Linked DNA regions of Homo sapiens: region 2 is linked to region 1. Evidence: fine-mapped expression QTL. Tissue or cell type: whole blood. Region 1 holds a variant in brackets; the other region holds the start of a gene. All regions are shown on one strand. Distances are between the middles of the regions.

Evidence for each region. PIP is the estimated chance that this variant, and not a neighbour inherited with it, causes the effect.
Region 2: it holds the start of CDKL1, and the variant in region 1 is fine-mapped to the expression of CDKL1 in whole blood (INTERVAL, PIP 0.98).

The regions. Positions count from the first base shown.
Region 1 is chr14:50,361,416-50,372,424 of GRCh38, forward strand. The region is part of intron 2 of CDKL1 (cyclin dependent kinase like 1); the gene reads right to left. Among named protein-coding and RNA genes, the nearest start is that of CDKL1, 30 kb to the right of the region's middle. RefSeq lists enhancers at 1,495-1,904, 2,045-2,094, 9,888-10,389, 10,390-10,889 and a silencer at 4,409-4,574. The variant AT/A (reference allele first, on the strand shown) is at 6,608.
Region 2 is chr14:50,391,280-50,402,288 of GRCh38, forward strand. It overlaps CDKL1 (cyclin dependent kinase like 1), which reads right to left and starts at 5,602. Exons shown (of 10, transcript NM_004196.7): 1 at 5,545-5,602; 2 at 4,422-5,050. The coding sequence starts at 4,589. RefSeq lists silencers at 5,306-5,755, 5,695-5,920 and an enhancer at 5,514-6,013.

The DNA of each region.
Region 1 (11,009 bases):
TGCTATAACAAAATACCTGAGACTGGGTAATTTATAAAGAACAGAACTTTTTTTCTTACAGTTCCGCATGCTGGGAAATCCAAGATCAAGGTGCTGGCACTGGTGTCTGCGGAGGCATGCTCTCTGCTTCCAAAATGGCACCTTGTTGCTGTGTCCTCACATGGCAAAAGGCAGAAGGGCAAGAGAGCACCCCCCTCAACCTTGAGCTCTTTATACGGGTGCTAATCCCATTCATGAGGGCTCTGCCTCCCAGCGGCCACACCTCTTAATACAGTTGCACTGGGGGTGAAGTTTCAACATGAATTTTGGAGGACGCACCACCATCATTGAAACAGAGCAGCCCATTAATCACCTTTGTGAGAGGTGACAGCATGCTGGCAGCCCTGGCAGTCCTCGCTCGCTCTCGGCGCCTTCTCTATCTGGGCTCCCACTTTGGCGGCACTTGAGGAGCCCTTCAGCCCGCCGCTGCACTGTGGGAGCCCCTTTCTGGGCAGGCCAAGGCCGGAGCCGGCTCCCTCAGCTTGCAGGGAGGTGTGGAGGGAGAGGCGCAGGCGGGAACCGGCGAGTTCCGGGTGGGCATGGGCTTGGGGGGCCCGGCACTCTAGCGGCCCCCTGGCCCACAAGCCCCGGGCAGTGAGGGGCTTAGCACCTGGGCCAGCAGCTGCTGTGCTCGACTTCTGGCCGGGCCTTAGGTGCCTCCCTGCAGGGCAGGGCTCAGGACCTGCAGCCTGCCATGCCTGAGCCTCCCCTCCCCACCCCCCCACCCCCACCGTGGGCTCCTGCGCGGCCGAGCCTCCACGATCAGAACCGCCCCCTGCTCCGCAGCACCCGGTCCCATCGACCACCCAAGGACTGAGGAGTGCGGGCGCACGGCATGGGACTGGCAGGCAGCTCCACCTGTGGCCTGGTGTGGGATCCACTGGGTGAGGCCAGCTGGGCTCCTGAGTCTGGTGGGGACTTGGAGAACCTTTATGTCTAGCTAAGGGATTGTAAATACACCAATCGGCACTCTGTATCTTGTTCAAGGTTTGTAAACACACCAATCAGCACCCTGGGTCTAGCTCAGGGTTTGTGAATGCACCAACTGGCACTCTGTAACTAGTTACTCTGGTGGGGACTTGGAGAACCTTTATGTGTAGCTAAGGGATTGTAAATACACCAATCAGCACCCTGTGTCTAGCTCAGGGTTTGTGAATGCACCAATCGACACTCTGTATCTAGCTACTCTGGTTAGGACTTAGAGAACATTTGTGTCCACACTCTGTATCTGGCTAATCTAGTGGGGACGTGGAGAACTTTTGTGTCTAGCTCAGGGATTGTAAATGCACCAATCAGCACCCTGTCAAAACGGACCAATCACCTCTCTGTAAAACAGACCAATTGGCTCTCTGTAAAATGGACCAATCAGCAGGATGTGGGTAGGGCCAGATAAGAGAATAAAAGCAGGCTGCCCGACCCAGCAGTGGCAACCTACCCTGGGCACCATTCACACTGTGGAAGCTTTGTTCTTTCACTCTTTGCAATAAATCTTGCTGCTGCTCACGCTTTGGGTCCGCACTGCTGTAACACTTATGGCAAAGGGCTGCAGCTTCACTCTTGAAGCCAGGGAGACCACGAACCCACTGGGAGGAAAGAACAACTCCAAACACACTGCCTTAAGAGCTGTAACACTCACTGCGAAGGTCTGCAGCTTCACTCTTGAGCCAGGGAGACCACAAACCCACCAGAAGGAAGAAACTCAACACATCCGAACATCAGAAGGAACAAACTCCGGACACGCCGCCTTTAAGAAGTGTAACACTCACCGCGAGAGTCTGTGGCTTCATTCTTGAAGTCAGTGAGACCAAGAACCCACCAATTCCAGACACGTTTGGATCTTAGAACTGAGGGCACTCCAAGCTATAAAATGCCACATTTGTTATCATACCTGAAAACCCTTAGCCTGAACTAACATTCTCCAAACATAGTAGGATAGAACTGACTACTGTCTTAAACCTCTGAATTGGATTGACTAAGATGTCTCAACCAGAGAGTAAACAACCAGGTTAAAAGGGGCTAAATACTAACTTTATGATAGAATTCGCAGAAAGCAGAAGTTTTCTTTCAGACTGAAAAATAATCATCCTTAGGCTTTACTTTCATTTTCACACTATTTGCTCCCTTGACAGGATGTGACATTGAGGCCAAGACTTTGAATCTTAGAATTCTCTTTCCATTTTCCACATTCCATATTTAGTCCTCATGTCTCCAGCTGGCTCTTCTAACAAAAGTAGAAATGCATCAATTCTACCCAAACAAATCCCCCGACCTTCTCTGGATGCCAAGCCTGGTGCCTCCCACTTGCCACGTCCAAACGTGCAGTGATCACAGCAGGACACTGCTGCCCCAGGACAAGGCCCAAAGGTCCTCTCCATTTGGCCTCTGCTTACCTCTCCAGCCCCAACACTTATAACTTCCTTCTGGACCCACTGAATTTCTCTCACTTCCTAGAAGGCTCACACTCCCTTTCATTTCAGGATGTGTTCAGTTTCCTGTCTCTAAAGCATGCCCCACCTCCAGATGTTACTTTCTCTATTCAGCTTCCTCTGCTCCACCCTGACACAGCTGGTATGTACCGCAAGAGCTATGATCTGGGCACCCAAGCAAGGAGTAGCACTGTGCCAGTAAAGGACACTGTCACAGCCATATCCATTTGTCTGAATGGGACCAGTAACTGTTATATTGCACCCACCTTGCTACGTTACTATACATCTTTTGAAAACCAAAGTTCTTAGCTGGGCGTGGTGACTCATGCCTGTAATCCCAGCACTTTGGGAGGCCAAGGCAGGCGGATGCCTGAGTTTAGGAGTTCAAGACCAGCCTGGGCAACATTGTGAAACTCTGTCTCTACTAAAACTACAAAAATTAGCTGGGCGTGGCGGCACGCACCTGTAATCCCAGCTACTCGGGAGACTGAGGCATGAGAATCACTTGAACCCAGGAGGCAGAGGTTGCAGTGAGCCCAGATTGTGCCACTGCACTCCAGCCAGGGCAACAGAGCAAAACTCTGTCTCTAAATAAATAAATAAATTTATTTTAAAAAAGGAAACAAAACTGAGGTTCTGATAACTGCATGTATTAAATATTCAAATAACATGTAGGTTCTTTCCAATTTTTTGCTATTATAAATAAGATTTTGATAAGCAACTTATTAGCTGGTTGCCTCACTTGGACCAAATTAGGTAAGTTCTGTAGGCCTCAGTTTTCCATCTGTAAGAGTAAGAAGCGCAAGGGCTGTACTGCCAATTACACACAGGCACATACAACAGGGTCAGGTAAATATTAACCTCTCTGTAAAGGTTAATTATTGATATTGTTACCTTTGGGTTAAATCTATTTTTATTTAGAATGATTTTTCTCTATTCATTTTATTCAACAATTATTTATATATCTTAAGGTGCATATGGCACTGTGTTAGCCCTAAGGATATAGAGACAAATAAAGCAAGTACTGCCCCTACCGGCCTGGAGCTTAGAACCTAGGAAAGGAGACAGATGTTGGAGAAGTAATTATAGCTATGATAAATGTTATAAAAATGAGGTAAAGTGTACCTGGTTTGAGGGTGAGGTGTGGTTCAGGGAAAATCTCTTTGAGGAAGTGGCCATTAAGTTAATGATTCATTAACTGAGAATGACCTGAAGTTAACTGGGCACCATCTAGAGCCCCAGAAATGTGGCTCTAACTAGATAGAGTCAAATTGCTTTCCAAAAGGATTGTGAATATTTACCCCTTGGCCAGGAGTATGACAGTATTTTTACCATATTATGGCCAGCTTTAAGGAGCCTATAGACAATTTAAGGCTTGTGATATATATTGCCAAATTGCTTCCTTTGAGGGCTTACAGTGCCTCTGGCAACACAGGAAGGTGTAACTTGTCTCTCCCATCTTCCTCCATGAGATGATCTTCAAATAATTGCAAATAGCTGATAACTTATCTCTCAACCTGTTTTTAGAATAATTTTAATATAGAAAGATGATCATTAATACTAAATCCTAATGAGGGGTTATAAATATTAAATTATCAATATTTTAAAATAAATTATTAACTTTCACTGGGTTGCCAGGATTCCAGGTGACCCGAAAATACTCCAGAGCAGCAGATATGTGGTCTGGCATAGCACCCTTATGAAGCCAGTCCCCGTCTAGCTGTGTTCATATATTCAACAAATATCCCTAGAGCCCTGTGATAGTTAATACTGAGTGCCAACTTGATTGGATTGAAGGATGCAAAGTACTGTTTCTGGCTGTGTCTGTGAGGGTGTTGCCAAAGGAGATTAACATTTGAGTCAGAGGACTAGGAGAGACAGACCCACCCTCAATCTGGACGGGCACCATCTAATCAGCTGCCAGCACAGCTAGAATAATGCAGGCACTTGATTTGCTGAGTCTTCCGGCCTTCATCTTTCTCCCGTGCTGGATGCTTCCTGCCCTCGAACATTAGACTCCAAGTTCTTCAGCTTTTGGACTCTTGGACTTACACAGTGGTTTGCCACGGGCTCTCCGGCCTTCAGCCACAGACAGAAGGCTACACTGATGGCTTCCCTACTTTTGAGGTTTTGGGACTCAGCTTGCAGACGGCCTGTTGTGGGACTTCATCTTGTGATCATGTGAGCCAATTCTCCTAATAAGCTCCCCTTCATATATACATCTATCCTATTGGTTCTGTCCCTCTAGAGAACCCTGACTAATATAAGCACCTACTCTGCATCAGGTATTGGTGAAAGAGACAGAGGACTCAGGCATTAAACAAAGAAGTGCCAAAAATAATCTATGAAATTAGGCTGTCTCAGAGAAACTGGCCCTGAGGAAGTGACCTTGAGCCGAGTCTAGAGGGTAAAGGTCTGACCAAACCAAGGGCAGGGGTGGTGGTAAAGGCAAAGATGGCAGCTTTCCAGGCAGTGACTGGCCCTGAGTCAGGAGAGAACTTGGGTCACTTCAGCAACTGAAAGACAGTGTGGCTGGTGGGTGAAGCTCGTGGAATCAAGGCCAGCCAGTCAGAAGGCAGATCCTACAGGGCCTTGCAGGCCACGCTAAGCAATTCACTCTATCCTAGTGCAATGGGAAGCCACTGGAAGGATTTCAGCAAGACGTGATATGATACCATGGGGCTCTTAAAAGCTCACTACAGCAACAGGATATAGAATGGCTTGGAGGACGCAAAATGGATGAAGTGGCTGTTGATAGCTGACATTGTGGTGACTTGGAGCAGAGCAGAGGCAGGGTAGTCGGTGAGAAGCATTGTCTTGAGATGTATTTTGTTATCAGAATAGTCCGGATGTGGTGATCGGCTGGAGGTGAGGGACAGGGGAGAAGGAAGTGTCAAAAATGACACAAAGGTTTACACACTGGAACTGTCAAAAATGACACAAAGGTTTACACACTGGGGCAGATGGTGATGCCATCACAGAGAGGGGGAGTAAGACTGGGAGAAAGAAGTCACTAGCTTTGTCTCATTGAATTGGTGGGGATCTGAGACACCAAAGTGGAGTTGTTATGTCAGCCAGAGTCTGAGCTGAAGATAAAAGCCAGGGAGTCCGCATGTGTGTAAGCGAAGCCATAGACAGAGAGAGGAGATTGCCCCGAAGGAGCGAGAGTGAGATGAGAAAGCTGTCTAAAGAACCCTCCCACCCAGATGTGTGGTTGATGAGGAGGAAACACGAAAGGGGAAAGGGAAGAAAGCCCCTTAAGATGAGAGAGAAGACAGCAGAGCAGGCGCCATGGGGGCATCATGGGAGGAGGAAGTGGTCAGTGTTGACAGATGCTGCTGAAAGGTCAGATGGAAACAGAGGGCTGAGAGATGCCTGGTGGGCTTCCCTGGGTTGGGGTCGAGTGACCTTATTGGAAACGGTATCGGTGCAGTGGTGAGACCAGAAGCCAGATTATGTGGACTTAACATCTCAAACTACCTTACTCCTCTCTCTCTATTGACTCCACTGACCTCAGGGGTAGAACTCAAAGGGACACCTCTGATCCTCAAACCAGTCTGCAGCGAATAGCTGGAGGTGTCCATCATAGCCCCAACATTGTGAATGTTTGCATTCACAAGGGTTTGGATGTTTCTGCTTCAATGCTGAATGGAGTTCTTTCGGGACGTACAAACGAATTAGATGAGAAGAACTAAGCAACATGATGGACAAACTGTTACAGGCTTACCCAACATGTTCACGGTACATACAAGTAAACTTAATAGACAGAACAGGTTAAATTACCATATATACCACAAAGATGTTTGGGGCTCATTTAATGACAATTCCTTCCTATATACAAGTCTGTGAAGCCAAAGCCTCAGGTCTGGGGCGTCTGTGCTGGGCTAATCTTGAAGCTCTTGGTGCTCCTTACCAGGCCAGTATCACCGTCCTTCAGTTAATGCTCTATCTAGAAGCACGGGCCTGCTCGGACTCAGATTTACTTTCTCTTGTACAAAAGTTTCCACTTTTGCTGCTGCTATTTTATTTTAGTCTTCCTTTTATTTTCTCTTTGTGTTTTTTAAAATTTTCATTTTCAAATTATTATTACTTTTTTGAAACAGGGTCTCACTCTGTCACCCAGGTGGGAATGCAGTGGTGCA[AT/A]CACAGCTCACAGCAGCCACGAACTCCCAGGCACAAGTGATCCTCCTGCCTCAGCCTCTCAAGTAGCTGGGACTACAAATGTGTACAACCATGCCCAGCTAATTTTTAAAATTTTGTGTAGTGACAGGGTTTCGCTACGTTGCCCTGTCCGATCTTGAAATCCTGGGCTCAAGCCAACCGCCCACCTCGTCCTCCCAAAATGCTGGGATTACAGGCGTGAGACACTGTGCCTAGTCTATTTTTTATTTTTTGAGACAGGGTCTTTCTCTGTTACCCAGGCTGGAGTGCAGTGGCATGATCATGGCTCACTGCAGCCTCAAACTCCAGGCTCAAGTGATCCTCTTCCCTCAGCCTCCTCAGTAGCTGGGACTACAGGTGCACACCATCATAACAAGCTAGTTTTTTTATTTTTAAAATTTTTTTAGAGACAGTGTCTCACTATGTTGCCCAGGCTGATCTCAGACTCCTGGGCTCAAGCGATCCTCTCACCCTAGCCTCCCAAATTGCTGGGATTATGGGCGTGAGCCACTGTACCCAGCCTTCTCTCTGTGTTTCAAATACTGATGTTCCATATTATGTTGCCAAGTCAAGTATTTTCTGTGACATTAAAAAAAGGACTTCATTTTTCTGAGGTTGAATTTAGCCAGAGCCCTACCTGGTTTCCCTGCAGAGCTGAGAATGCTACGTATCCTACGTGGGCAGCTGCCTCTCTGTGTCGTCAGCCCTCTGTCTTCATTGGGCACCCATCTGTTCTGATAAGCTCAGACCCTCCATCTACTAAGGTCAATTGCTTGGCCTGTTTAGCCCATGAGATTTTGAAGAATTTTGTGCTAGTTGCCAACCTTTTTTTTTTTTTTTTTTTAGATGGAGTCTCGCTCTGTCACCCAGGCTGGAGTGCAGTGGCACAATCTCGGCTCACCACAACCTCCACCTCCAGGGCTCAAGCGATTCTCATGCCTCAGCCTCCCAAGCAGCTGGGAATACAGGTGTGCACCACCATGCCTGGCTAATTTTTGTATTTTTAGTAGAGACAGGGTTTCACCATGTTGGCCAGGCTGATCTCAAACTCTTGACCTCAAGTTATCTGCCCACCTCGGCCTCCCAAAGTGCTGAGATTATAGGTGTGAGCCACCACGCCCGGCCGCTACCCTTAACCAGGAAATGTTACTTTAAAATCCTGGTTACCAAGAGTCTCTTGCAAATGCTGGGGATCAGCAGGTCTAGGCCTGTAGACTCTGTGGCACTTATGAGCTAGGGCTGAGAGCAGCTGTTCACTTTAGACAAGGCTTGTATGCTTTAGGTCACCGCAGTCACCCACTCCCTATTGCTCCCTGATCATGATGCCAAGTGAGAGTTGCTCTTTATCATCACTCTTGCATTATTGACTTTCTTATACTAGAGTTAAAAGTGAAATATTTAATATGTCCATGTTTCTATCAAAAGTAGAAAAACGTACAAGCAATAGAGGTATATTTAATTTTTTGTTGTTCTTTTAAAGCTTTATTGTAAATTGTAAACTTATTGTAAATATACAATTTATAATTATATATATACATATATTATATATAATATATATACACACATGCACACACACACACACACACACACACACATATATATATAGTTGCTCTATTGCCCAGGCTGGAGTGCAGTGGCACGATCTCAGCTCACTGCAATCTCAGCCTCCTGGGTTCAAGCAATTCTCCTGCCTCAGCCTCCTGAGTAGCTGGGATTACAGGCACCAGCCACCACCCCCAACTAATTTCTGTATTTTTAGTAGAGACAGGGTTTCACCATGTTGGCCAGGCTAGTCTCAAACTCCTGACCTCAAGTGATCCGCCCACCCCAGCCTCCCAAAGTGCTGGGATTACAGGCGTGAGCCACCATGCCTGGCTAATTATATATGTTTATGGGGTTCAAATTAATGTTAGGATTTATGACTATAATATGGAATAATTAAACCTAGCTAATTAACATATATCCATCACTTCAAATACTTACCTTTTTTTTTGTGGTAAGAACATTTGAAATCTACTCTTTTAGCAATTTTTTTTTTTTTCTTTGAGACAGAGTCTTGCTCTGTCACCCAGGCTGGAGTGCAGTGGCACGATCTTGGCTCACTCCAACCTCTGCCTCCTGGGTTCAAGTGATTTTCCTGCCTCAGCCTCCCAAGTAGCTGGGATTACAGGTGCCTGCCACCATGCCTGGCTAGTTTTTGTATTTTTAGTAAAGACAAAATTTCACTATGTTGGCCAGGTTGGCCTCAAGCTCCTGACCTCAGGTGAGCCACCTGCCTCAGCTTCCCACAGTGCTAGGATTACAGGCGTGAGCCCCTGCACTCAGCCTCTCTCAGCAATTTTGAAGTGTACAATACATAATTAACAACTGTATTCACCATGCTGTGCAACAGATCTTGGAAATGAAACTTATTCCTCTTGTCTAAGATTTTGTACCCTTCAACCATCATCTCTCCATTCTCCTCATCCCCTAGCCTCTGTAACCACCATTCTACTCTCTGCTTCTAAGAATGTATTAGGCTGTTCTCACATTGCTATAAATACCTGAGACTGGGTAATTTATAGAGAAAAGAGGTTTAATTAGCTCATGGTTCTGCCGGCTTTACAGGAAACACGGGGCTGGCATCTGCTTAGCTTCTAGGGAGGCCTCAGGAAGCTTACAATCATGGCAAAAGGTGAAGGAGGGGCAGGCATGTCACATGGCAAAACCAAGAACAAGGGAGAGAGAGGGAATTGGCAGTGGGGCATACCTGTTTAAATGACCAGATCTCACGAGAACTCACTATCACGAAGACAACACCAAGTAATGAGGGATCTGCCCCCATGATCTAAACACCTTCCACCAGACCCCATCTCCAGCACTGGGGATTATAATTCAACATGAGATTTGGGTGGAGACAAATATCCAAACTATATCAATGAATTCACTTGTTTCAGATTCCACATATAAGTGAGAACATGTGCATTTTTCTTTCTGTGCCTGGCTTACTCAGCAGCATAATGTTCCCCAATTTCATCCATGTTGTCACAAATGTCAGAATTTTCTCCTTTTTTAAGGCTGAATAGTACTGTATTGTGTATATATACTACATTTTCTTTATATATTCATCCACTGATGGCCACTTAGGTTAATTTTATGACTTTGGCTATTGTGAACAGTATTGCAATGAACATAGGAGGGCAGACATTTCAAATTTCACTTTTGGGTAAATACTCAGAAGTGGGATTGCTGGATCATATGGTAATTCTATTTTTAGTTTTGTGAGGAATCTCCATATATTTTTCCATAATTTACATTCCCATCAACAACTTTAAGGGTTTCTTTTTCTCCACATCCTCGCCAACATTTATCTTACATCTTTTTTATCACAGCCATCCTGACAGGTGTGTGATGATATATCATTGTGGTTTAAATTTGCATTTTCCTAATGATTAGAAATGTTGAGCATTTTTCCATATATCTGTTGGCCATTTGTATGTCCTCTTTTGAGAGATGTCCATTCAGATCCCAGGCTTATTTTTTCCCCCTTTTTTAGAGACAGTGATGGCACCAGTGGCCCATCTGGAGCAGCTGCTGCCATGATGCTGGCTGCAGTGGGGGAGGCGCAGCCATGGCTGTGTGCTCCCTGGAGCTGGCAGGAGCTGGGAACAGATGGGAGCCTCAGGTTGGAGGGGCAGGAGCCCCACCCTCCCAGGCAGCTGCAGACACCCAGTCATGGCTGCAGACCCGGGCATGTCTGCACACTTGGGACCTGGGAGGCCCCCCAACCCCTGCAGGCTCAGAAGTGCCATGCCTGCTCCTACTGCCTGACCTCTCCCCACTCCTGGTGCCCACTCCGATTTCAGAGCAAAGTTATGGCCAAGCCCAGGGACTGTCATGACCCAGCCAGGTGTGCGCATGCTCAGGGACATGCTGACACGCCAGCCCCCTGCTGCCTCGGACCCCTCTGGACTTTGGACACCACTGAGCATAGGAGGGAGGCCAAGGGAGGCCAAGGGAGGCCAAGGAAGGGGAACATCTAGTTTTTGAGCTGTTTGAGTGTATTATATGTTTTGGGTATTTTTGTTTTGTTTTGTTTTGTTTTGTTTTTGAGACGGAGTCTCACTCTGTTGCTCAGGCTGGAGTGCAGTGGAGAGATCTCGGCTCACTGCAACCCTTGCCTCCTGGCTGGGTTCAAACAATTCTTGTGCCTCAGCCTCCTGAATATTTGGGATTACAGGCGTGCACCACCACACCTGGCTAATTTCTGTATTTTTAGTAGAGACAGAGTTTTGCCATGTTGGCCAGACTGGTCTCAAACTCCTGACCTCAGGTGATCTGCCTGCCTCAGCCTCCCAAAGCACTGGGATTACAGGCGTGAGCCACCACACCCGGCCCGAGTTC
Region 2 (11,009 bases), 30 kb after region 1:
GTCCATGTGTCATATGCAAATCAGAAGACGGTGAATACCCTGGTAGAAGAAGTTCCACCCCATAGCTTAGAGCCAGCTGTGGATCCTGTTACAGAAAGATTAAGGAGAGTGTATGTAAAGAATCTAGCAGTCTTGCTCTGTCGCCCAGGCTGGAGCACAGGGGCACGATCTCAGTTCACTGGAGCCTCTGCCTCCCGGGTTCAAGCGATTCTCCTGTCTCAGACTCCCAAGTAGCTGGGATTACAGGTGCCTGACACCACGCTTGCCTAGTTTTTGTATTTTTAATACAGATGGGGTTTCACCATGTTGGCCATGTTGGCCTCAAGCTCCCGACCTCAAGTGATCCGCCCGTCTCAGCCTCCCAAAGTGCTGGGATTACAGGCGTGAGCCACCATGCCTGGCCTAAATTGTCTTTTTTTATGCAATGATATTTATGTTTGGTATGGTTCAGGGCAGTAACTCAAGGTCACGGGTCCAGCAATTCTCTCCCTCCTCCAACATCAAGTTTTTTCTCTACTGGATTTATTTACACCATTAGCATACAAATGTACTTCTCACTCGTATAATAAAAACAACCACAAAAAAAACCTGTCTTCAGCCCACATCTTTACGAACACCTCTGCCCCATTTTTGTCTTCCTTTTGTAATAAAACTCTTCAAAACAGTTGCCCATATCATTATCTCCACTTTGTTCCTCTCGTCTCTCTTAATCCCTTGCTGATGAAGGTTTCATTCCTGCCTCTCCACTCACACAGCTCTTGTCAAGGTCGCCAAAGACCCTCACATGATCAAAGCCAATGGCTAATCCTAAATCTACTAATGGAGACACAGAGCATCCCCTCACTTTTGAACAATCTTCTTCACTAAGCTTTTAAGAACACTATGGCCAGGAGCGGGGGCTCACGCCCATAATCCTAGCACTTTGGGAGGCCAAGGTGGGCGGGTCATTTGAGGTCAGGAGTTTGAGACCAGCCTGACCAACATGGTGAAACCCTCTCTCTACTAAAAATACAAAAAGTGGCCAGGTGTAGTGGCAGGCACCTCTCATCCCAGCTACTTGGGAGGCTGAGGCAGGAGAATCTCTTGAACCTGGGAGGCGGAGGTTGCAGTGAGCTGAGATTGTGCCACTGCACTCCAGCCTGGGTAGCAGAGTGAGACTGTCTCCAAAAAAGAAATAATAATAATAATAATAATAATAATAATAATAATAATGAAAGAACATTGTTCTATGGGGTTTCCTACCATGCAGATCGCCTCTTCTTGCCTCCCTTGCCGGTTCCTTTTCATCTTCCTGACCCCCAAAGGCTGGGTACACCAAGCTTCCACCTTTAGTACCTGTCCCTCCATCCCACATGGTGACCTCCTCCGGTCCCACAGCTTTAAATACCATCGATATGCTTATGTCCCCCAACTCTGTCTCCAACCTGGACTTCCCCTGAATGCCAGACTTGTGTAGTCAACTGCCTACTTTACAAGTCTCCTTGGGTTCACAACTCAAACTTAACCTGTCCAAAACAGAGCTCTTCATCTCCTTTCCCCCACATTTGCACCTGGGTCTCTCTATCACAGTGAACAATCTCCTCATTCTTCCAGTCAATCAGTCAAAAACCTTGAAATTGTTCTTGATTTCTCATCCAATCATTAGATTCCTATGTGCTCTTCTTTCAGAAGAAATCTAGAATATGACTTGATCCTGCCGGACCCTGGCTTCCCCCTTCCTTCTCTCCCTGGCCTGTTAGCACCCACTGGGCATCTTGGCTAAGACACTGGGTTATTACCTGTGTTCCCTCAATATAGGGTGCTTTCTACTTATGCACCTTTTCCTAGGATAGAGTGTCTGCCTGAAATGCCTTATCTCTCATTCCACGTTTCCCTAAACATTTCAAAGTTCAGCTCAAACATGCCTCCAATCACTTTATTTTCACCATTCAACAAGCACCTAAAGAGTTCTTACCAGGCAAGGGTACACATGCCCTGCTCACTGGGAACCCAGTCTATAAGGGGTGAGAGCCAAAGGGCAATTCAACTTACCTCCCTTCCAAGAGCTGAGCTTCTGAAAGACAGGGTGTACAACTTTGCATAAACATCGTTTTAGGCACAACTGGGGCTCTATGAGTATTTACTGAATCCATAAATGGAGAAAATAAAATGTTCATTTACCATACCCTCAATTCACCTACTCAACAAATATTTATTAAGTATCTTTATTTTATAAGTGACAGGGTCTCACTGTCACCCAGGCTAGATAGAATACAGTGGCCTAATCATAGCTCACCATAGCCTTGAACTGCTGGGCTTAAGCCATCCTCTTGCCTTGGCCTCTTTCCTTAGTAGCTAGGACCACAGGCACGCACCACCATGCCCAGCCTAGTACGTATTATGTGTTAGGAATATCACACAACTCTGAAAAGTTACAGCTTTAAAGAACAGACTCTACCTATAATCTAGTCCCACCATTTCATAGAGATCAGTGGTGTCTACATCTGTGCACTTAATTTGGAGAGTGGGGTGCTGCATGCTTTGAAATCAGGCTCATGTGTACACAACCCCATCCTTTGGAGGATATCAATATTCAGATAAGAGAACACATTTGACTTCCCCATTTATTGGCAACATCCACCTTTGTTAAGAGTTTATTTTGTTAACTTTTTTTTCCAATCCAACAATGACATTTTTTGGAGGCCTAGATGTGCCAACTAGTGTGCTTTGGGGATATAGAGCTACAGAGGCAAGGTCTCCATCCCAGAAGAACTCAATGAATTTGGGGAGCTATCACTGTTAATGTAGTATTGATAAAGTGTAGTGAGAGATTTGAAAGGAGCATTCACAAAAGTAATCTTCAGAATCAGAAAAAGAGTATCTTTCTGCAAGAAACAGATTTTCTTTCAGGTAAATGAACCCTTTGAAATGTAATGATCACCTCCTCCCCTGGGAAAGCCTGAGGAAGTGAAAATGCCCAACAGCCTCTCCCTGTGTACAGAGAGGGTAAGGGTAGGGTGACCCGGGCAGGGGGATGGTCAAAACACTGCAGGTCTCACCCCTGCCCATGGGAGCACTCCCCTGCGGGGCTTTGGAAGCATCTCCTCTCAATAGATAATATCCTGTTGGTTAAGAACATTCCAAACCTAAATAGAGAAGTTGCCCTGTTACCCACCCATTCCAATTTATCCAAAGCTTGCTACTTTCCATTTAGGTTCCTTATCTAGAAGTGACCCCACACACTTATCCATGGGCACAAGATTTGTAGAGTGATCTGGAGAAAATGGAGAAGCAAGAATAATAGTAAATCCCCTGGAAGTTTCATTCATCTGTCTCTCATCAAGTAGCTCTTCCCTTGTCACATAGTAGTTATACAGGTCAGAACAGAGAGGCCATAACTGAAACAAAGTTGACCTCCACCATATTCATTACATGTCACCTTTCACATTGCGATTTGGATTTTACCTTCACAGAAGTTCTGTAAAGTAGTCTCTCCATTAGCGAAAAACACACTTTCAGCTTGTAATAAATACCTTTCCCCCCTCTGATATCATGTTATTTTTAGGGTTAACTAATAAACATTTGAAAAGTGATCAGGCCAGGCTCGATGGATCATGCCTGTAATCCCACCACTTTAGGAGGCCAAGGTGGAAGGATCACTTAAGGCCAGGAACTCGAGACCAGCCTGGCCAACATAGCAAGATCCCATCTCTAAAAAATGTTAAAAAAAATTAGAAAGTGATCATTTCACTTCTTTAAGAAAAACGCTTCTTTTTAGAAACGGGACATGATGATGCTCAGCAGTAAATACATATGAGGTGTAATGAGAATCTGTGAGCTTCCTAGCAGTTTGAAAACAGGTAAATGTTAATTCTCTTAATAGACTGAGTATACCAATAGGAAATACCTTAGAAGTTTAAAAATCAACAATGCCAGCAAAATTGAATTGTCTTACATTCCTATACTATCAAATTGTAATGGTCCTTGAAAACCCAGGTCTACAGGTGGGAGAGAAATTATGGGGAAGAAAAATAAATATCCCACAGCATCTCTAAAAGTGAATGCCACCTTACCTGGCACTTTTGTCTCTGCTTTCTAGTTCATTATATAATTAGTGACTTGTGCACAGATATCCCATTTGTGTCACTGAAGTCAAAAGGCTATGAAGTAAGATATAACCATGTCCCATGACATTCTTTTAACATAACATGACTCACTTTATTTCTTTCATCCCTAAAAATTCACTTTAAAGAAAAAGTGGATCCCGGAGCAGTGGCTAGAACCTGTAATCCCAGCTACTCAGGAGGCTGAGGCAGAAGCATGGCTTGAGCCCAGGAGTTCCAGGCTGCTGTGAGCTATGATCACATGGCTGCACTCCAGCCTGGGAGACAGAGTGAAACCCTGTCTCGAAAAAGAAAAAAAAGGAAAAGTGAATCAATTACCTTGAGCATTCGGATTTCCCGAAGGGCAATTTTCTTTATGACAGGGTCATCTTCTGATTCCAGAAACTTCTTGATGGCCACAATCTGACCCGTGTCCCTGTTTCTACATTTGAAAACAACTCCATAGGATCCTTCTCCAATTTTCCCAATTTTTTCATACTTCTCCATCATAGAGGAATAAATCTTCTTAAAATGGATCTTCAGCCGAGAATGGTGGCTCACGCCTGTAATCCCAGCACTTTGGGAGGCTGAGGCGGGCAGATCACCTGAGGTCAGGAGTTCGAGACCAGTCTGGCCAACATACTGAAACTCCGTCTCTACTAAAGATACAAAAAATTAGCCGGGTGTGGTGATGGGCGCCCGTAGTCCCAGCAACTCAGGAGACTGAGGCAGGAGAATCGCGTGAACCTGGGAGGCGCAGGTTGCAGTGAGCCGAGATCGCGCCACTGCACTCCAGCCCGGGCGACAGAGCGAGATTCCGTCTCAAAAAAAAAAAAAAAAAAAAAAAAAAAAGAAAGAAAGAAAAGAAAAGAAAGGATCTTCACATAGTTTGAAAACGTCGCTTATAAAATATTGGCACCAACGGACTGCACTAGAGCCCCACCCAACGATGAGTGTTTGTCACGGTCCTAGAACAGAACAGCACATGTTAAGGAATGAAGAGTGTACCCGTGTCGGCAATGGCAACGCGATCAGGAGTAACAGCCTAGAGTTAGCTGCCTCCAGTAACCCGATTTTAATCGCCCGTTAAATACCCTGTAAGTTAAAATGTAACTTGCCATCCTAAAACGAGCCGAGCTGTAAGATAAGCTATCTTTTTAACGTTATCGTTCATCCGATCTAAGACACCTGAGCTGGCTGGAGTACGGGGAGGGCTAAGGGCTTCCCCGGTTCTAATTTCGGGTCTCATTTCCCTGCGGCAAGAAGACACCTCCCGGCTCCCCGCGGAGGCGGCGGCGAGGCTTGGCCGCAGGAGACCAACCCGCGCCCCGCGCCCCACGCCCCCGGGACTGGGAAAACCCTCCCGCGCCCGGACGTGCACCTCAGCCGCGCCGCGCAGCATGGAGCGGTGCCACGTGTTGGCCAGGGACGGCCCGCGCCTCCTTGCCCGCCCGGGACTCACGGCGCCGCGGCGGTCAGGGACGGGCCTGGCTCCCGCCTCGCCTTCTTCCGCCCAGCTCGGCTCGGCGTGGCTCGGCCCGCGATCCCTATGGGAACCGGCTCCCGCCCCGGGTCTGCCTGGGCGGGGCCGCCGCGCCCCAGCTTCCCACCCCCGGCCCGGCCCAGCCCGGCCGCCCTCCCGGCTGCAGGGAAAGGCCTCGGAGGGCCGCCCTCCGTCCATGGGAGCTGTCCTGACCGCGGGCCGAGTCCTGCTGCCGGGAGAGCAGACCTGCTAGATTTGCAAACTTCCGCAGGCCGTGCAAAGCGCAGCTGTAACCGCGTCTGCGGAGCAAGACGCCTGCGCTAGGAGCCCCTCCTGAGCGGTCCACATTTCCCTGCAACAGCAGTCCCCACACCTCAGAACCGCGGTTATTCCCTTTGGTCCCTTGGAGGCATCTTCTGTGTCTGTGCTGATCAGTGCTGCGGCGTCAGTGAATGAATGAGAGGGAGAAAGGAAAGAAGAGGAAGGCGTGACTGCAGAAATTGCTTAAAGTCAGCACTTTCCTCTACAGTAGGGAAGGTTCCACGGCAGTCTTCTGCTGTGGGACTTTTCTGGTGTGGGAGGTGGAAGCTTACAGAGTCTGCCTTAATTGTTTTTGGTTCCTTTCCCCCATCTTTCTCCCAACGGACTCCTACTGCTCAAATCTGAGCACACTGGCGGGAAGCGGATGGACCTGGGGAAATTATGAAATCATGTCAGTTGCCACTGGGCAGAGTGCCTCACACTTTATCATCCGTCCCGTTCCCAGTGCCAGCATCAATGCGGGTACTTGTCCTGGAAGCAGTACCCGAGGAGAGAAAATTAACACAGTGTCTATGAAACAGGGGCCAATCCCGTGTCAAGCAGCATGCTACTAAATGTAAACCCAGGAAGGGTTCAGAAAGGAGCCTGGAGCTGAGGAGAGAGGGCTGGTGGCTGCCCTGGAAACCCAGTACAAGGATGGCCTAGAGGTGGTCTGTGAACAGAAATTGTTTGCAAATGGCAACCATTGATCTGTTTTCTGTCTCTATAGTTTTGCCTTTTCCAGAATGTCATGAAAATGGAATCAGACCGTATGTAGCCTTTTGAGGATAGAGGATCTCCCCCACCACCCCAACTCCAGTGAGCTTTCAGATGAGATTGTAGCCCCAGATGACAATGTAAGTTCAATCTTGTGAGAGACCTTGAGCCAGGGGCACCCAGCTAAGCCATACTTGGGTTCCTGACCTCTAGAAACTGAAATATGTTTGCTATTATGTTTTGGGGTAATTTGTTATGCAACCATATGTATCTAACACAGAAGCCTTTTATTAATAGGAGGTTGAGAAAGTTCACTTTCATTCCTAGTTTGCTTAGTGTTTTTGTTTGCTTTTTAAAATTATGAATGGATGTTGAATTTTATCAAATGCATTTCTTCATCTAGAGGTGATCATTTCCTTTTCCTTTCTTTTCTTTTTTTTTTTTAATTGAGAGGGAGTCTCGCTCTGTCACCCAGGCTGGAGTGCAGTAGTGTTATCACTGCTCACTGTACCCTTGAACTCCTGGGCCTAAGCAATCCTCCCACTTCTGCCAGGCCTGAGTAGCTAGAATTATAGGTGTGCACCACCTAATTGTTTTTATGTAGTCTGTTGATACGGTGAATTATATTGATTTTTAGATGTTGAACCAACCTTTTGTTCCTGGGATAAACCCAACTTATTTATGATTTTATCATTTTAATGTATTGCTGGATTTGATTAGTAATATTTTATTGGAAATTTTTACATTCATGTTTTGAGAGATATTGATGTATAGTTTTCTTGTAATATCTGCTAATTTTGGCATCAGGATAATGCTGATCTCAGAAAATGAGTTGGGAAGTGTTTATCTTCCCTTTTATTTTCTAGAGATGTTTACATTAAATTGGTATTATTAATTCCTTAAATGTTTGGAAGAATTTTTTTTGTTTTTTTTTTTGAGACAGTCTTGCTCTGTCATCCAGGCTGGAGTGCAGTGGTGTGATCTTGGCTCACTGCAACCTCTGCCTCCCAGGCTCAGGCGATCCTCTTGCCTCAGCCTCCAAAGTAGGTGTGCCACCACGCCTGGCTAATTTTTGTGTTTTTTGTAGAGACAGGGTTTCACCATATTGCCTAGGCTGGTCTCCAACTACTGAGCTCAGATAATCTGCCTGCCTCAACCTCCCAAAGTGCTGGGATTACAGGCATGAGCCACTGCACCCCGCCTTCTAATATAAGCATTTAATGCCATAATTTTTCCTGTAAGCACCACTTTAAATACATCACAGAAATCTTAATATGTTGTATCATCATTTTCATTCAGTTCAAAATATTTTTTTTTTTTTTTTTTTTTTTGAGATGGAGTCTCACTCTGTCACCCAGGCTAGAGTGCAATAGTGTGATCTCGGCTCACTGCAACCTCCGCCTCCCAGGTTCAAGCGATTCTCCCACCTCAGCCTCCCAAGTAGCTGGAACTACAGGCATGCACCATCATGCCCAGCTAATTTTTGTATTTTTAGTACAGACAGGGTTTCATCATGTTGGCCAGGCTGGTCTTGAACTCCTGACCTCAAATGATGCTCCCGCATTGGCTCCCAAAGTGCTGGGATTATAGATGTGAGCCACCATGCCTGGCCCAAAAATATTTTCCTTGTGACTTCCTTTTTGACTCATGGGTTATTTTTGTAGTGTGTTAATTTCCAACTATTTGGTGATTTTTAAAGATATCTGTTATTGATTTCTAGTTTAATTCCATTATTTTCAGAGAACTCAGTTTATATGACTTAAATTCTTTGAAATGTTTTATTTTGTTTTATGACCCAGAAAGAATATGGTCTATGTTCATGAATGTTTCTTTTTGACAATTAAAAAAAATATTTTGAAATGAAGTGAGAAAGTCAGTGTGAATTTCCCCAGAGCTGCATCGTCTGAAGTTCATACCAGGTTAAATCAAGTTTGTCTGGAAAATTAACTTTATGGACTCCACAACGTCAGTACCCAAAGAGCCTGGAACTGTGCCAGGCCTAGTGGTAGTTAAAGTAGGAGCCAGTGTACTGGTTATTTATGCCCAAGTAGGCAGTGAACCAGAAAGCTAGCATGACTTGCAGCTGCAAGTTGTTTTGTTTGGAGGAATTTGAAATAAAATATTAGAGAACAACTTTAAAAGGGAGATGAACAGTCGGCTGTCACCACTTAGCACAAAAGAGAGAAGGTAACGTGGCCTCTAGACTAGTCAAACTGACAGTCCTTTCCCTTGGCAGGTGCGACACTGGTTTTGGTATCAAAGAAGTATATAACTCCTGGAAAGTATAGCTCTTGGGAATCTCAGAAATGGTCTGTTATGTGGGGGCTTTTTCTCAAGCCAGTGCAAAGTGAAACAGCATTATATTCTGCTAATAGTGATCTTTTCTTTGCAGTTTGTATAATTAGCGAGAATACTTCAGTGTTCTTAGAACAGCACAAACCGTACTATGGTATTTTAATCATTTAAGGAAAAATAAACATTCAGTAGGGTAACATATGGTCACAGAAAAAGCCTGGAATTTGGAGTCAGAAGACCAGGATTTCTACCTACTTACTGGTGTTTGATCTTGTGCAAGATAATTACTATTGCCTATATAACAACATTATTTAATGAGTGCTTACTTTGTGGCAGGCATTATGCTATGAATATTTGACCCATGAGCCTCACAATAACCCCAGGAGATAGGCATTAAATATCATCCTGAGCTTTCAGATGACTCTCATTGAGTTGGAGAGGATAAGTAGCTAGCCTAAGGACACCCAGCTAGTGAAGTGTGAAGTCAGTATTGGAATGCAGGTGGTTTGACTCCAGAATCTTTTCTCCTAACCATTTTGCTAATACTACCTAATGCATTGTGGTGGTTGTCAGGATTATTGAGTTAATGTGTAGGACATTGAGAGCTGGCGCAGAGCACTTAAAATGATGCACAGTGTAGCACCTTCCTCCTTTTTTTTAGGCTACCGGGAAGACTCATCTTGTCTATATGCTCCCTTCTCATGGTAGCTCAGCAACTTCATGTGTGTGCAGCTCCAGCACCAGGAGAATGAACTTCCATGAGATTGGGCAGAACACTGAAGCCTCATCTGAGTGCAGAACCCAGGGCCAATGCTTGAAGCCTTTTTTCTTTTTTTTTGAGATGGAGTCTCGCTTTGTTGCCCAGGCTGGAGTGCAATGGTGCGATCTCGGCTGACTGCAAACTCTGCATCCCAGGTTCAAGCCATTCTCCTGCCTCAGCCTCCCGAGTAGCTGGGACTGCAGGCACCCGCCACCACACCTGGCTACTTTTTTGTATTTTTAGTAGAGATGGGGTTTCACTGTGTTGGCCAGGCTGGTCTCGAACTCCTGACCTCGTGATCCGCCCGCCTCAGCCTCCCAAAGTGCTGGGATTACAGGCATGAGCCACCGTGCCCAGCCAGCTTTTTTTTTTTTTTTTCCAATTATGTTGTAAGGAAAGGGGAGTTGAGTCAATGTCATTTTAAAATGACACTCTACAGCAGCTTGAGGAAATACTTGAATTTATTGTCTCTGTTTTAAGTGGAATTGGGAAAGAAATTGATTCCAGAGTCCATACAGACAAAAGCTAATAACTATCATTTAGGGACGCATTTCAGGCTCAGTATCCACATTATCTCTGATCTTTATGACAATCTTACATGGATTTGTTAACTGACTGGGATTATTAACTGGCCTGTTTTATGAAAGAAGAAGCTGAGGCTCTGAGAGATTGATCAGTAGAGACAAAGCCACCCTGCTATCAAGGGCTGAACACAGGTTTCAGGCCCAACTCTGCCTGTTTCCAAAGCCCATGCTCTTGTAGTGGTGAATGGAGTTAGAACAACTAAGAATGCCTTGAGAATGATCCTCTGTCCTTGGATGCCCTAGAGAGCTAACAGCAGGGCAGACCTGCTGGTCCAATCCGAATTCACAACATCCTGAAGAGAAGCCAGGTGTCAGCTGTCAGCCGCATTCTTCTTGACCAATCACTGCTAGAATGTTACAAAGCCAGGCATGCAAATAACTTTCCCTTTACCTGGAGATAGAAAAGAATGCTGAATCAGCTGGGCATGGTGGTTCATGCCTGTAATCCCAGCACTTTGCGAGGCCGAGGCGGGCAGATCACATGAGGTCAGGAGTTCGAGACCAGCCTGGCCAACATGGTGAAACCCCGTCTGTATTAAAAATACAAAATTAGCTAGGCATGGTGGTGCATGCCTGTAGTCCCAGCTACGCGGGAGGCTGAGGGAGGAGAATCACTGCAACCCAGGTGGCAGAGGTTGCAGTGAGCCAAGACTGTGCCACTGTACTCCAGCCTGGGTGACAGAACAAGACTCCATCTCAAAAAAAAAAAAAAAAAAAAAAAGACTGCTGAATCAATGTAAATATATGGGAAAATCAATTTTAAAAGGAGCCTATCATTTCTGATTTTA